4 separate regions of the Homo sapiens genome follow, and all the other regions are linked to region 1. Evidence: fine-mapped expression QTL. A gene starts in region 1. Each other region holds a variant in brackets. All regions are shown on one strand. Distances are between the middles of the regions. Region 1 holds the start of SALL4 (spalt like transcription factor 4). Region 2 has its middle 10 kb from the start of ATP9A. Region 3 has its middle 140 kb from the start of ZFP64. Region 4 holds the start of ATP9A (ATPase phospholipid transporting 9A (putative)).

Evidence for each region. PIP is the estimated chance that this variant, and not a neighbour inherited with it, causes the effect.
Region 2: its variant is fine-mapped to the expression of SALL4 in whole blood (TOPMed, PIP 0.99). The same link has a PIP of 0.9 or more in blood mononuclear cells.
Region 3: its variant is fine-mapped to the expression of SALL4 in whole blood (TOPMed, PIP 0.98).
Region 4: its variant is fine-mapped to the expression of SALL4 in whole blood (TOPMed, PIP above 0.99).

The regions. Positions count from the first base shown.
Region 1 is chr20:51,800,969-51,805,130 of GRCh38, reverse strand. It overlaps SALL4 (spalt like transcription factor 4), which reads left to right and starts at 2,610. Exons shown (of 4, transcript NM_020436.5): 1 at 2,610-2,852. The coding sequence starts at 2,723. RefSeq lists enhancers at 2,264-2,905, 3,549-4,162.
Region 2 is chr20:51,776,758-51,780,919 of GRCh38, reverse strand. No RefSeq gene overlaps it. Among named protein-coding and RNA genes, the nearest start is that of ATP9A, 10 kb to the right of the region's middle. The variant A/G (reference allele first, on the strand shown) is at 2,176.
Region 3 is chr20:52,046,447-52,050,608 of GRCh38, reverse strand. No RefSeq gene overlaps it. Among named protein-coding and RNA genes, the nearest start is that of ZFP64, 140 kb to the left of the region's middle. RefSeq lists enhancers at 681-1,198, 1,199-1,717, 1,718-2,235, 2,236-2,755. The variant C/T (reference allele first, on the strand shown) is at 2,442.
Region 4 is chr20:51,764,651-51,768,812 of GRCh38, reverse strand. ATP9A (ATPase phospholipid transporting 9A (putative)) reads left to right here and starts at 423. Exons shown (of 28, transcript NM_006045.3): 1 at 423-511. The coding sequence starts at 444. The variant C/T (reference allele first, on the strand shown) is at 2,326.

The DNA.
Region 1 (4,162 bases):
TTACAGGCATGCGCCACCACAACCAGCTAATTTTTGTATTTTTAGTAGAGATGGAGTTTTACCGTGTTGGCCAGGCTAGTCTCGAACTCCTGACCTCTGGTGACCCGCCAGTCTTGGCCTCCCAGAGTGCTGGGATTACAGGCGTGAGACACTGTGCTCAGCCTGAAACAACTTTTGATTACGGACTTGCCTGTTGCTATGCCCTCCGTTCATCCCCTGCTTTGCTCTAGGACTTACTTTATTTTCCACCAACTGGCTCCTGGCTGCAGCTGTTAAACTGGGGGTAGATTCAAAACATGTACTGTGTCCTGCTTTTCTTGATATGACATTTGTGGAAGGTTTCCATTTGAGGGAAACTTCTTGACTTCATCTGTTGGAGTGATTTCTGAAGACCCAAGATTTTTCTAGGACACTTTAAATTTAGTTTACTGTACTCCGATTTTTCTTCTTTAGCTATCTTCTCTATATTCAGCTATAGTTGGAAGACAGGTATTAGGATGTGATAGAATTTTGGAGTCAGACTTAGAAACTGACCACCGGCTTAGAAACTGACCACCAGCTCAGCCAGTTTCTAATTAAGTCACTTCATGTCTTTGAGCCTCAGTTTCAAAATGGAGAGGACAATAGGGCCAACCTCCATGGGAAGATAAAACAAGGCGGTGTGCATTCATTTAATGCAGTCTGTGGCATGTACAAGGGGCTCAATCAATTATTATTATTACTATCACTTGGAGAGTCAAGCGGCACAATTTTGTCTCGTAGTAAGGCTAACATGTTACAACTATCATCTACTAAAATAAATATAAACAACTATATAAATGAAATTTTCCTTAACCCAATAGTATTTTTTGAGCCATAAACCCACTGCACATTCGTTTAGATTTGTAAGTTAGATCTCCTGCCACACTATCTTACACAGAAAAGGTGTTGAGAATATTAGTAGATTAGTCAGCAAGGCAGGTGCTAATTGGCCTTTTTACTCAGTATCAGAATTCTAAACTGCTTCTATGTATTATTAAACCAAATTCTTACCTTTTCAATCTGGCTGTTGGCTATAATTCTGTCTTACTTGCTTTAAATATTATACATAAAATAAGGCAAGACTTTTTCAGAGACTCAAAAATTGAAGGTTAATCTTCCTTCAACAAGTTTTTACTGATGGCCACGAATATAAAAAAGATGATCAAGCTGATTTATTTTCTGCCTTGGGTTGTCCAAATACCCAGGTGAACACATTGATGAGCCCAGCATTCCATTTTGCTTGTATTCCTGATGAGTTTACAAGCTGGGAACGTGATGAATAACTAATCAAGAGAATGCAATGCACAAATGTGGAGGGAGGGTTTATATCTGCACAGTCCCTTACAATGAAGTAAATGCCAAACAAAGACGCATGCCCAGAGCAGTTATGGAAAGACCAATCAAAGACTTAGCAGGTTGATGATTTCATCATTCATTTAACATTTATTGAGCATGTACATTGTGTAAAGCAGTTAGCCAAATTAAGTATACATGAATTTACGGTATAAATGTGTATACATGTAATATATCATATACACACACACAAGCCCCACTTTAAAAAATTCCAGGCATCATGTGTCAATGATACAATCACTTTGAACGATACACCTTTTCTGTAATAATGTGTGTATTGCACAAAAAAATTCCAATAGTGATTAGTAACAACCAGATACTGTGACAGTGCCCCATTGCCATTCCATGGGAGATGCAAGAGCATTGTCTCAGTAATAAAATATGATGTTATCAGGCATTTATGGCTCCTGGGGAAAAAAATGCAATTGCTTGCTGTTTTGATATTATCTCTGACTATGCTTGCTTATCATTTGCCATTTCTATATTTAGTAGCCAGTCATTTTGAAGTTAAAAAAAAATCAAGGTTTGCATTGTAACCACAAACCAGTCTTTGTGAACAGGAATCCTGGAGGCTATTAATCAGCTTTTAAAGGAGGTAAGTCATGGTGGTGGTGGGGTATCTGAAATTTTGGAAGTTCCGAGCTCACTTTAAGAGTTGAGATGGGTGGGAGGGCTGAAAACACCACCATTCATCATTCTTCAGTTATCTCGAGACTCAACTTAAACATTTTTAATCAAAAAGATGGGAGGGGACACGGGTCACATCTCAGGTTTGGGGGAATGTGTGTGCGTGTAGATGTGAAAACTGAGCCAAAATATTCCACTGTGAAGAGATCTCCCTTCTCGGCTGGTGGACATCAACCTTACCAAGTAATCTTTGGAGCAAGTAACTACCAAATAAAGCCGTTCCAAAACTTCTACGTAAGCTCCTACTTTTTAATGAGTACGCATTTCTCCCCATTTTCTTTTCCTCTCCAAGGACTGAGATAGCTGGAGCAAGGATGGGTCCCCCTCTGATTTCGTCCCCGCCCCAGCCAATCTGAGCCCGGATGCTAATTAGCTGCGCTCCCCTGATGAACACGCCTTTGTCACAAGTAGGCCCGGACTACAAAGCCCAGAATGCCTCACCCCTCCCTGATCAATGAGGGCTTATTTAAATGATCTCTGAGGTCTTGGACCCAGGCCAATCAGCTGTCAGGGCTCATGATAAATCGCAATGCATTATTGATAATAATAATTACTGGGACATGCGCGTTCCGGCCGAAGGGGGGTAAATTTCCCAACTCCAGGAATTTGTGGCGGAGAGGGCAAATAACTGCGGCTCTCCCGGCGCCCCGATGCTCGCACCATGTCGAGGCGCAAGCAGGCGAAACCCCAGCACATCAACTCGGAGGAGGACCAGGGCGAGCAGCAGCCGCAGCAGCAGACCCCGGAGTTTGCAGATGCGGCCCCAGCGGCGCCCGCGGCGGGGGAGCTGGGTGAGTGGGGCTGGGGCGCCCGCCCGGGGAGGGGAGCTTCCCGGACGTACGCGGGATCCTCGAGGGCGCAGGCTTCGGGGAGCGGGCGGCGTCCAGCGCAAATTCAGGAGCCGAGATTTGGGGGCTCAGTGCCCGGGAGGAGAGGTCTCCTCCTCTCCCCACCACCCCGCCTTTTGCACATTTCACACTTTTTTCCTCTTCTCCCCTCTTGTGTAAGTTTCACCCCCAGCTTTCTCCCCTAATTGTAAAATTGACCCCCACTCGCTCCTCTGTTCTCGCTCCCGAAAGGTTCCCTTCTCCTTGTCCTCTGCCCCTCACTTAATTGGTTCCACTCCCCTCACTGGTGTTACCCCCCCCCCTTGTAACTTAGGTCCCCCTCCCTCGCGTCGCTCTCAAAAGAAAGAACCCCGGGGGATCCCCACCCTCTCCACCAGCCCCTTGGGGCTTTTCTTGGAGGCTGGAGGAGGGGCGCACCCCTGGAAGACCCCCCGGAGGAGGACGATCTGTTGCACGCGCCCCTCCCGGGCCAAGTGGGGGGAGGGGGCGCGACCTCTCCCCACCCTCAGGAGCTGGGGTGCGGGCCACCCGCGCTGCGCAGGGGATTGGAGGGCCCAGAGAGGTGGGGGAGGAGGGCTCAATGTTTCCCTTTAAAATTTTTTTCTTTTCTGGATTTCGCCTTTTCTGCCCGGGCTGCGCCGCCTGCCGATCTTCGCCCTAACCTTTCGGGGCCTGACCTCCAGCCATCTTTGATTTCCGACTTCCTAAAAATAACCGCGGCAAGCCCGAGGGTGCGAGCCCCCAGTGGCCGGGGTGGCGGGCGCGCGGCAGCCCCACTGGGGTGCACCGGCCTCCCGTTTTGCGTGGCTTTTCTGGAGCGCTCGGCTTTCCACATTTGCGCTTGGGTGTGAAAGGGGAGAGGTGGGGGGCCAGAGCGAACTCCCGCGGCTGACCTGGCCCACGCTTCCGCGGCCAGCGTTTCCCAGATCGAGGGGAGTTCGGGACCCCAGCCGCGCCAGGAACGGCGGGGCCAACTCTGTTCCCACTTCATCACTTCACCGCGGAGGTTTTAGGAGCGAGGCGGTTTTCCACTATCTCGTCTCCATCCCGGCCCGCCAAATTGTCGCCTGATAAGTTTTTAGCGTGCGCGTGGGGGGAGGGGGGATTTGTAGCCTCCTCTCCGGCCTTGTTCGTCGCTCCGCTCCCCGCCTGCTTTCTAATTTCCCTGCAGCAGACGGGTGTGCGCGGCAACCCCGGAGGACTCTCAGAGACCATCTCTGATACCCGGGGTTTCCCGAGAAGACGGTCGCCAC
Region 2 (4,162 bases), 24 kb after region 1:
CCGCATAGTGTGGCCATAACTTTGTTTTGTCAGTTAGAGACCGCATATACAACCATGGTCCCATAAGATTGTAATACTAATTTTTACTGTACCTTTTCTCTGTTTAAATTTGTTTATAGGCCAGGCGCAGTGGCTCACGCCTGTAATCCTAGCTCTTTGGGAGACCAAAGTGGACAAATTACCTGAGCTCAGGAGTTCGAGACCAGCCTGGGCAACACAGTGAAACCCTGTCCCTACTAAAATGCAAAAAAGTAGCTGGCCATGGTGGCATTGCGCCTGTAATCCCAGCTACTGAGGAGACTGAGACAGGAGAATCACTTGAACCTGGGAGGCAGAGATTGCAGTGAACCGAGATCACGCCACTGCACTCCAGCCTAGGCGACAGAGCAAGACTCTGTCTCAAAAAAAAAAAATTAAGTACTGCTTAATTTTTTAACGTCTGCCTCCCGCATTGAAGTGATTCTCCTGCCTCAGCCTCCCGAGTAGCTGGGATTACAGGTGCGCACCACCACACCCAGTTAATTTTTGTATTTTTAGTAGAGACGGAGTTTCACCATGTTGGTCAGGATGGTCTCGAACTTCCAACCTCAGATGATCCACCCGCCTCAGCCTCCCAAAGTGCTGAGATTACAGGCATGAGCCACTGCACCAGGCCCAAGAAGACATCTTCCTAATATAAAAATGCAGCTGGGCGTGGTGGCTCACACCTGTAATCCTCACACTTTGGGAGGCTGAGGGGGGCAGAACACCTGAGGTTGGGAATTCGAGACCAGCCTGACAATCATGGAGAAAAATCCATTTCTACTAAAAATACAAAAGTAGCTGGGCTTGGAGGTGCATGCCTGTAATCCCAGCTACTCGGGAGGCTGAGGCAGGAGAATCACTTGAACATGGGAGGTGGAGGTTGTGGTGAACCAAGATTGTGCCATCGCACTCCAGCCTGGGCAAAAAGAGTGAAACTCTGTCTCAAAGAAAACAAAAAAAAAAAAGCAAGGTAAGGCAGTAAATGCTGATGTAGAAGCTACAGCAAGTTATCCAGAAGATCTAGCTACAATAACTACAGTAGCTACACTAAACAACATATTTTCAAAGTAGACAAGACAGTCTTCTATTGGAAGAAGATGCCATCTAGGACTTTCATAGCTAGAAAGGAAAAAAACACCTTGCTTCAAAGGACAAGGTGACTCCTGTTAGGGGCTAATGCAGGTGGTGACATTAAGCTAAAGCAATGCTCATTTACCATTCTGAAAATCTTAGGGCCTTTAAGAATGATGCTATTTCTACTCTGCATGTGCTCTGGAAATGGAATGACAAAGCCTGGATGATGGCATATCTCATTTTTGTTTTGAGATGGAGTCTCTGTGTCACTCAGGCTGGAGTGCAGTGGCACAATCTCAGTTCACTGCAACCTCTGTCTCCTGGGTTCAAGTGATTCTCTTACCTCAGCCTCCTGAGTAGCTGGGATTACAGGCACCTGCTGCCTTTTGTATTTTTGGTAGAGATGGGGTTTCACCATATTGGTCAGGCTGGTCTCAAACTCCTGACCTCAAGTGATCCACCCGCCTCGGCCTTCCAAAGTTTTGGGATTACAAGTGTGAGCCACCGCGCCCAGTTTAGCATATCTGTTTATCACATGATTTACTGAATATTTTAAGCCCACTGTTGAGACCTACTGCACAGAAAAAAAAAAAAAAAGATTTCTTTCAAAAATTATGGCTGCTCATTAACAATGCATCTAGGCCGGGCGCAGTGGCTCACATCTGTAATCCCAGCACTTTGGGAGGCCGAGGCGGGTGGATCACAAGGTCAGGGGTTCGAGACCAGCCTGACCAACATGGTGAAACCCTGTCTCTACTAAAAACACAAAAATTAGCTGGGCGTGGTCATGGGCGCCTGTAATCCTAGCTACTCAAGAGGCTGAGGCAGGAGAATTGCTTGAACCTGGGAGGCGGAGGTTGCAGTGAGCCGAGATCACGCCACTGCACTCCAGCCTGGGCGACAGAGGAAGACTCCCGTCTCAAAAAACAAAAAAACAATGCATCTAATGCATCTGTCAAGAGCTCTGATGGAAATGTACAAGGAGATTAATACTGAGATTAATACTGTTTTTCATGCCTGTTAACACAACATTCATTTTGTAGTCTGGATCAAGGAGTGGTTTTGTTACTGGTAAGG[A/G]GTCTGGATCCAGACCCTAAGAGAGGATTCTTGGATCTCACGTAAGAAAGAATTCAGGATGAGTCCATAAAGTGAAAGCAAGTTTATTAGGAAAGCAGAGGAATGAAAGAATGGTTAGTCCATAGACAGAGCAGCCCTGAGAGTTGCTGGTTGCCCATTTTTATGGTTATTTCTTGATGATATGCTAAACAAGGGGTGGATTGTTCATGCCTTCCCTTTTTAGACCATACAGGGTAACTTCCTGATGTTGCCATGGCATTTGTAAACTGTCATGGCGCTGGTGGGAGTGTAGCAGTGAGGACAACCAGAGGTCACTCTTGTCGCCATCTTGGTTTTGGTGGGTTTTAGCTGGCTTCTTTACTGCAACTTGTTTTATCAGCAAGGTCTTTATGACCTGTATCTTGTGCTGACCTCCTATCTCATCCTGTGACTAAGAATGCCTTAACCTCCTGGGAATGCAGCCCAGTAGGTCTCAGCTTTATTTTCCCCAGCTCCTGTTCGAGATGGAGTGGCTCTGGTTCAAATGCCTCTAAGAGTTTCAACTTCCAGGTCTTATTATTTCAGAAATACTACATTTTGTAAGCTGCCATAGTTTGTTATTTCTCTGATGGGTCTGGGCAAAGTAAAGTGAAAACCTGGAAAGGATTCACCATTCTAGATGTTGTTAAAAACATTCGTAATTCATGGGAGAAGGTCAAAATATCAACATAAACAGGAGTTTGGAAGAAGTGGCTTCCAACCCTCATGGATGACTTTGATGGGTTCAAGACTTCAGTGAAAGAGCCAGGCACCGTGGCTTATGCCTGTAATCCCAGCACTTTGGGAGGCCGAGGAGGATGGCTTGAGAGCCAGGAGTTCAAGACCAACCCAGTCAACACAGTGAAATCCTGTCTTTACAAACAACAAAATTCAGTGGAGGAAGTAACTGCAGATATGATGGAGATAGCAAGAGAGCTGGAAATAGCAGTGAAGCTTGAAGATGTGACTGAATGGTGGCAATCTTAGGAGAAAACTTGAATGAATAAAGAACTGCTTCTTACAGATGAGCAAAGAAAGTATTTTTTGAGATTGAGACAGAGTCTCGCTCTGTCACCCAGGCTGGAGTGCAGTGGCGCAATCTCAGCTCACTGCAACCTCTGCCTCCCATGTTCAAGTGGTTCTTCTGCCTCAGCTTCCCAAGTAGCTGGGACTACAGGCGTCTGCCACCACGCCCAAGTAATTTTTTTTGTATTTTTAGTAGAGATGGGATTTCACCGTGTTAGCCAGGATGGTCTCGATCTCCTGACCTTGTGATCCACCCGCCTCGGCCTCCCAAAGTGCTGGGATTACAGGCATGAGCCACCGCGCCCGGCCTGTTGTGGGTAAAATATTTTCAGACAGTATCACAAGTTACAAAGAAATCTCAGATAAAGAATCAATATAGCCAACATCATTGTTGTCTTATTTTAAAGAAATTGGCATAGCCATCCCAACCTTCAGCAACCACCACCCTGATCAGTGAACAGCCATCAACATCAAGGTAAGATCCTTCACCGGCAAAAAAATTACGACTCCAGAAGGCTCAGAGGATCATTAACATCTTTAACAATAAAGGAATTTATAATTAAGGTATGTACGTTGTTTTTTTTTTTGGTTTGTTTTTTGTTTTTCCCGAGATGGAGTCTCACTCTGTCTCCCAGGCTGGAGTACACTGGTGCGATCTTGGCTCACTGCAACCTCTGCCTCCCAGGTTCAAGCAATTCTCCTGCCTCAGCCTCCCGAATAGCTGGGATTACAGGTGCCTGCCACTATGCCCAGCTAATTTTTTGTATTTTTAGTAGAGATGGGGTTTCACCATGATGGCCAGGCTGGTCTCGAAGTCCTGACCTCATGATTCGCCTGCCTCAGCCTCCCAAAGTGCTGGGATTATAGGCGTGAGCCACCGTGGCCGGCCTGTACATTGTTTTTTAGATGTAATGCTATTACACACTTAACAGGATATAGTGTA
Region 3 (4,162 bases), 250 kb before region 1:
CTTCCAATTACTTGCACAAAGGCAAAGAGTGAAAAGCCATGGATATTCCTAAAGAAGAAAGTCTCAATCTCCTTACAAATAGAGGCAAAGTAAAAAAGGAAGAAGAGGAGAAAGAGGAGGAGGAAGGAGGAGGAAGGGGAGAAGCAGAAGGAGAAGAGGAAGAAGGGAAAAAAGTATAAGGAGGAAGAGAAGGAAAAGAAGATAAAGGAGAAGGAAGATAAGAAGAAGAATTGGAGGAGGAAGATTTATTTATTTTTGAGACGGAGTCTCACACTGTCGTCCAGGCTGGAGTGCAGTGGCATGATCTCCACTCACTGCAACCTCTGCCTCCTGGGTTCAAGCGATTCTCCTGCCTCAGCTTCCCAGGTAGCTGGGATTAGAGGCATGCGCCACCATGCCCAGCTAATTTTTTGTATTTTTCCTAGAGACGGGGTTTCACCATGTTGGCCAGGCTGGTCTCGAACTCCTGACCTCGTGATCCGCCTGCCTCAGCCTCCCAAAGTGCTGGGATTATAGGCGTGAGCCACCATGCCCAGCCAGGAGGAGGAAGATTAAAAGAGGAGGCCGGGCATGGTGGCTCACGCCTGTAATCCCAGTACTATGGGAGGCTGAGGTGGGTGGATCACTTGAGGTCAGGAGTTCGAGACTGGCCTGGCCAACATGGTGAAACCCTGTCTCTACTAAAAATACAAAAATTACCCCAGCATGGTGGCACTCGCCTGTAATCCCAGCTACTTGGGAGGCTGAGTCAGGAGAATCGCTTGAACCCGGGAGGCTGAGGTTGGAAGGAGCCAAGATCACACCACTGCACTCCAGCCTGGGCAAGAGAATAAGACTTCGTCTCAAAAAAAAGAAAAAAAAAAAAAGAGGGAAGAGGAATTAGAAGAAGAAGAAAAGGAGGGAAAAGGAGGAGGGGAAGAGGGGAGAAGAAAAAGGAGTGGTAGTGGGAGGAGCTGAGAAAGGAGCAGAGGAGGGTGGGTGAAGGAGTAGGAGAAGGGCTCTGACCCCTACTGAGTTCTTATCAGTCTCCTCGACCTTAATTGCCTCCCTCCCTTTTGGCTTTTACCAGTTACACCAGTTACTGCGCTTTCTTTCATGGTGAAAAGAAGGACCAGAGTTGCTGTCACCACCTCCTTTTCAGAGTGAGCCTTCTAAGAGCTGAGGCCGAGTGAGCCTTCTAAGAGCTGAGGCCTTTGGCTCTCTCTCCTGTAGCACACTGGCCAGGCCCTGGAGCTCAGGCTGTCGCTGATCACACCCAGCTCTTGAGAGCAAACTGACCACCCTCTCCAAGGGACCCACCTGGAAACTTCTGCGATCCATTCTATTCGTTCAGACTGTAGGCTGAGAGTCCCTTTAAACTGCACTGGGCTGCTATCTCTTAGCATGTATGATTTGAGTGTTCCTTTAAGTGCTCTACAAAAGCCAGAAAGCAGGCAGGGGAAATCCTAGGTCTAAGAAATTAGGAAAGCTTTCTATTTTTGTTGGGTAAGTTTGATTCTGCAAATCATTTTATAAAAATACACTGAGAAAGTAGTCTAGCACACTTGCTACATTTTTAACATTCCTAAAGTTGCCCACAGTACTTAAAAAAAAAAAAAACGGTTTGTGTCACTTTCAATTGGGGCTAAAAGATCTTTTTGTTTGTTTTCTTGTCTTTAAAAATACTGATACCTGCATCTAATTTCTTGCCAAAAAATACGAATAAAAATACTGATTCAATAAGGAGGGCTGGGGTCTTTTTTCCAGATTAGATTTTAATTTTAAACTCAGGTCCACTATTCTGACGCGCCAGGACAAATAACTGTATGTGAGCCTATAAATTAACTTCCCTTAATTCCATCACTGATGAATTTTCATGTCGATAAGCCCCCCAAAAAGGAGGGAGGAGGGTCCCCTGTAACCAAACATAAGTCAGTTTACAAAGGAGTTCGGGGGACTTGGGGACACTGACTCCTCTTCAGAATTGCCTAAAGAGACTGGCCATTGACAATTTAAATCTTCAGTGCTTTATCTCTTTGTTTGAGTCTTGGAATGCCATTGATACCTTCTTTGTATTTATAATTGTTTTAATTAGCTACCCAGCGGGGGCCTCTCTCCCAGCTTGGATTATGGGCTGCACAGCGGGACAGGACAACCCAGTTAAAATAAAGCACAGACATTATGGCTCGCTTAATTTCTTTTATCTGTGTCCATTTTTTTTTCTCTTATTCCCCCTCATTTTCATCCTCTTTTTTCTTTTTTTCTTTTTTCTCCCCCTTGTTGTCTGTGGAAGGCAGGGGCAAAAAGCCTTGACACCTTGAATGGCTTAGCTTTTGAAGAATCAAAGTATGGAAAAAACTCAACCATGGATATTTATCAGCAGTTCACATCTCAGCGGAAAAAAGAAATATCGCCGATGTGCTTGTCCACTGCGTTTGATAACATTTCATAAGCCTCAAACG[C/T]GATCATATCTTGAGCGATTATGCTGACATGTACGTCGGTTGCCTGACTTTTGTGGGTGGAGTGAGGGGAAAGTTTGCAAAAAAGCTTCTCTCCGCGGCCCCTGTGTTATTTGTTCTTACTGACCACATCCTTCTTTTGTGGGTGGAAATCTGGAGGATCAATTATGATGCAGATCTGATACTATTTCCATTTGTGGGAGCGGTGTGGCCCGGGCGTTTGGACTTTGGGAAATTCTTGCATTGTTAAAATGGGTTTTCCCCCCACTTTGAACTCAGTGATGCTACTGGTGTGATCACACACACAAAAAAACTGCCTGGCCAGAGCTTTTTCTAAGAACATACAGAAATGCAGGGCTTGTTTGTAGCTTCAAAGAATAGCCAGGATTTCTCTTTTTTTGTGAATCTCTAACTACCTGTCTGGAAGCTAAAGCAGGGCGGGGGTTTGGGTGAAAACAGTCATTATTTTAAAAAGTAATCCTCCTACACTATGATGCAAATAATGGAGTTTTAATTTTTTTCTAATAATACCCCCAAAGAACTTATTTGCATTTGAAAAGAAATGATAGTTCAAATTATCAGTATAGGAAAAGCTTTGAACTGTCTTCTATAATTCAGTGCACTTATAAGTATTAAATGTTATAGAGCCCAAATTTATTCTGGAAATTTTCAACAGTAAGCATTGAATCTATCCCCCATCAAACAACCTGACAAAGGGCAGAGGAGATTATTTTGAGTTTGTATGTAAATATTCAGGGCGAGGTGGCTCATTCCTGTAAACCCAGCACTTTGGGAGGTTGAGGCGGGCGCATCACTTGAGGTCAGGAATTCAAGACCAGCCTGGGCAACATGGCAAAACCTCGTCTCCACCAAAAATTAGCTGGGCATGGTGGCGTGCACCTGGAATCCCAGCTATTGGGAGGCTGAGGTGGGAGGATCACTTGAGCCTGAGAGGTCGACGCTGCAGTGAGCCATGATTGCACCACTGCATTCTAGCCTGGGCGACAAAGTGAAACCCTGTCTCAAATAAATAAGCAAACAAACAGAATCTGGGGGCCTTTAAAACCAAGTATGGTTATAATTAAAATTTTCTCATTATCTGGATTATTTTTGGCTTTGTAACCAATCAGAGACCCAGACATTTACTTGCTGTATAAACCAGCCACATATCAAAGAGACTGTGAATTAAGACCCATAGCAATTTGTTTAGTGTGTTATAAAGCTTTGAAATTCAACGACAAGATGTAGAAGAGGCAGGAAACCCAGTATGAGCCAGAGGCCTAGGGTTGGGAAAATCTTCAGGAGCCAAGTGTCCTTGAGGGACACTAAATGACTATACGATAAAATAGCAAAGCCCATCGTGCCCAGAGCCCTGTGCAATGTACATGTTTGTGAAGATAATCCAGCTTGGGGGCTGTGCAACATCATGAATGACTAAGTGTCTCTTAATTGTATACTTTAAGATGGTTGATTTTGTTAAGTGAATTTGACCTCAATACAAAAAATAAAATGAGACAATCTTTTAAAAAATGTACATATATAATTAAGATTTGGAAATTACTTTAAAGATGTTTGCGATTTTTTTAAATTTTTTTTTTCCATTTTCACATGCATTTTCTTACTTATTCGTCAAAGGATAGGAACTCTTTGGGATCAATATTTTGAATACTCATCTCATTTTCTAGCCTAGTCACCCTCCAGTGAGGAGTAAAGCCATGTGGAGG
Region 4 (4,162 bases), 36 kb after region 1:
TGTGATTGTGAATGTGGGATTTTGCGGGGGGTGCGGTGGCAGGGTGCGCGCACGGCGGGCGTGGGCGGGGGGCGCGTGGCCGGGTGGGCGCGCGTGGGGGGCGCGGGCGCGGGCCGGGGGCGGGGACACTGCAGCGGTCGCGGCGGCGCGGACACGGCCCGGCCGCCCCCCGTGGCAGGCGCGGCGCGGCGCGGAGCGAGCGGGCGCAGCGCGGAGCTCGGGCCCATGGTGCGCCCGTGTCCGTCGGTCGGGCCGCGCGGGCGCTCCGCGCGTGGCCCGGCGCTCGCGAGCTCGCCCCCTCGCTGCGGGCCCGGCCCGCCCGCTGCCGCCGCCTCCTCCCCCGGGGCGGCGCGGCGCCGGCGGGCGGCGGCGCGGAGGCCGGACCGGGCGGCGGCCCAGGCGGCGCGGGGGGCGCGGCGGCCAAGGCGGGCGGCGCCGCCGACATGACGGACAACATCCCGCTGCAGCCGGTGCGCCAGAAGAAGCGGATGGACAGCAGGCCCCGCGCCGGGTGAGTGGGCCTGGGCCCGTGTTTTCCTTTGTCCGCGCCTCCCGGAGCCCGGCGCTCGGGCCAGCCTGGCCGGGCCTGACAGGTTGGCCGCGCGCCGCGCCCGGCGCCATGAGCCTGGGGCAGGGCTGGGGAGGCGGGGAGGTGGGGAGGGGGTCCCTGCGCTTCAGCCCCGGGCGGCACCTAGCCTGATGCCGGCCCTTTGGGGTTCGAGCGCCCGGTTGCCTGGGCCTCCTTGCCCACCTTCCTTTAGAAACCCCGAGAAGCCGGGCCCGCCCCAGTGCTGTTTACACACTCGCGGAATTCGGATCAGCCGTGCTTTCTCACCGTTTTATTGTTCCGTAATTAATATCTGTCCGTAATTAATATCTGAGGTAACAATTTGGTCAGTGTCACACCGAGCTCTGCGCTTGGAGCATTACTCGGGAGCCCAGATATGCTCAGCTTTTAGGGGGGCGCGGCCTACGCCTCGGGGTACCCCATCAGCGCCCCTGGGTCCCAGCCCCAGGAGGCTGCGCCGAGACCACCTGCGCTCCGGTGGCCCCTTCCCCCTCCGCCCGGGGTGGACCCGAACCAGCAGTCGCAGGAGGGTGGGAGGGTCTCCTACTGGCCGCTTGGTGACACTACCCCTTGTGTTCTCCCCCCACAATTTCGGGGAAGGAATCCCACGGCTGGGACAGGGGCTGCCACCTGCTGTGCCCTTCCCGCAGTAGGAGACCCCGAGGGCAGCTTAGGCGCGGAACAGGCAAGGGTTTTTCTGCATTTGGGAAGAGGGGACGGGTTGGTATTTTGCGCCTCGCCGTCTTCCTGTTCGGAGGATGGCAGCGTGACGCGTTGAGGTTTGCGGGGCTCTCGTATCGCCTGCCATAGACTTACCTGGGCGTGAGGGGCGGGGGTGGGAAGGACGGGGGTGGGCGCTGGTGCAAATGCAGATTTCCCGGCCCCCGCCTAGACCCGCCAATCAGAGTTCTGGGGGGCGGGGCCTGGAGATGTGCAGCTCCACAGGCCGCGCAGGTGAGGCTGGAGCCCGCGGGAGGCTGAGCGCGGTGTTGGGCGGGGCCTGCGGCCGCTCTGCTCCGCCCTTCCTCGGGCGTCTGGTCCTCTCTGGGCATTTCCCGGTGGCGGCCGCTTATTGCAGCGTCAGTTGCTCGGAACAGGAGACGCGGCGGGTGGAGTGAACCATAAGGGTGGCTTCACCAGGTGTCAGTGGAATTAAAAAAAAAAAAAAAAAGAATGGTGCTGGCGGCCATTTTGTGGGGTCTTTGTCCCTGGCTTCCTGAATCCTCCGAAGAAGAGGCCTCACTGATATTACCCAGAGGAGGAAACTGGAGGTTACGGAGGTTAAGGGCTATAGGGAAGACTGCAAAATGGAGATTGAACTCCGGATTGTCTGACCCAAAGATAGTTCCCTCACTCCTCCCTTCTCTGTTTTGCGTTTATTATTATTAGTATTATTATTATTATTGAGACGGAGTCTCCCTCTGTTGCCCACGCTGGAGTGCTGTGGCGAGATCTCGGCTCACTGCAACCTCCGCCTCCCGGGTTCAAGCAATTCTCTGCCTCAACCTCCCGAGTAGCTGGGATTACAGGCGCCCGACACCACGCCTGACTAGTTTTTGTATTTTTAGTAGAGACGGGGGTTTCACCATCTTGGCCAGGCTTGTCTTGAACTCCTGACCTCGTGATCCACCCACCTCGGCCTTCCAAAGTGCTGGGATTACAGGCGTGAGTCACCGCGCCCGGCCTCCTTCGTTTTAATGATGACAATTGACTTGAACACTATGCCTGGAACAGTGCCTGGTACATCGTACATCCTC[C/T]GTAAATACTGTGATGAATTAATATGATCAGTGGAGTCTAAAATCCAGTGGTTATTAATTTGTGCCATGAGCAATTATGAGACGCCTACTATGTGCAGGAGCCACTCCAGCTGATGGGGATGCAAGGATGAATTAAAGAAGACCTGCCCAACAGGTGTGGGTGTCCTGACCCTGGCTGTTCATTGCAATCACCAGGGAAACTTAACTAGCCTTTTCTGATTCATTCTAGACCTTTGAAATAAGAATTTAGGGTGGGACCTGGGTTTCTATCTATATATTTTAATAAGCTCCCCTGATGATTTTAACATGCAGTCAGAGTTGAGAACTTTTGAGTCAGTACATGAAAGAAAAATGCAAATATTGTTCAAAAGTGATCATTAGCGTGATAGAAACATGAGCCGTTCATATGGAGAGCCAGAGGGAGTGGTGCAGATAATTTTATTTAAAAGTAAGTTTTCTAGGTTGCGTTGGAATGGAGCATCACAGCCCCTTTAGAATTTACCAGCTTTGGAACTAATCTTTCTTTTTTTTTGAGACGATGTAGTTTCACTCTTGTTGCCTGGAGTGCAATGCCTTGGTCTTGGCCCACTGCAACCTCTGCCTCCTGGGTTCAAGCGATTCTTCTGCCTCAGCTTCCCAAGTAGCTGGGATTACAGGTGCCCACTACCACTCCCGGCTAATCTTTGTATTTTTAGTAGAGAGAGTTGTTTCACCATGTTGGCCAGGCTGGTCTTGAACTCCTGACCTCAGGTGATCCACCTGCCTTGGCCTCCGAAAGTGCTGGGATTACAGACGTGAGCCACCGTGCTTGGCCTGGAACTAATCTAATTCTGTTTTTTTTTTTTGAGATGTAGCTTCACTCTTGTTGCCAAGGCTGGCACGATCTCGGCTCACTGCAACGTCCGCATTCCAGGTTCAAGCGATTCTCCTTGAATCAGCCTCCTGAGTAGCTGGGATTACAGGCATGCACCATGCCCGGCAAATTTTGTATTTTTAGTACAGATGGGGTTTCTCCATGTTGGTCAGGCTGGTCTCGAACTCCTTACCTCAGGTGATCCACCCACCTTGGCCTCCCAAAGTGCTGTGATTACAGATGTGAGCCACTGTGTCTGGCCAATCTATTTCTTAAACAGTGACATGGATTTGGATTCAAATTGTGTATCAGGGTTGCTGTGCATTTGCGTAAATGCTCTTGTATATAATCTGCATTTTCAGGAGTAGCAACATCAAGGTGGAATCCTGAAGTTTAGAAACTCTTGAGAAGCACAGAGAGATGGAGGAGCTTCCTGAAATAGAACTAGGGGCTGGGGGATGGCAGCGTGAGGGCTAAAGTGGGTGGGTGGTTAAAGGAAGAAAAAAGTAATATGTAATGGGTCAGGCTGTCTGCTGGACACTTGAGATAAATAGGGCTGTTTTAATCCTTACAACAACCATGTGAGTTTTTGGAGTTAATTCTCCCATTTTAGGGGCCAGATGTGGTGGTTCAAGCCTGTAATCCCAGCACTTTGGGAGGCCAAGGTGGGCGGATCACTCGAGGTCAGGAGTTCGAGACCAGCCTGGCCAACATGGTGAAACCCTGTCTCTACTAAAAATACAAAAATTAGCCGGGTGTGGTGGTGGTGCCTGTAATTCCAGCTACTGGGGAGGCTGAGGCAGGAGAATTGCTTGAACCCAGGATGTGGAGGTTGCGGTGAGTCAGGATTGTACCACTGCACTCCAGCCTGGGTGAAGAAGCAAGACTCCATCTCAAAAAAAAAAATTCTCCCATTTTATTGACAGGGAAACAAAGATTCACTGATATTAATGTGTTCGTGGTCTTGGAGGTTGTGAGAGGAGG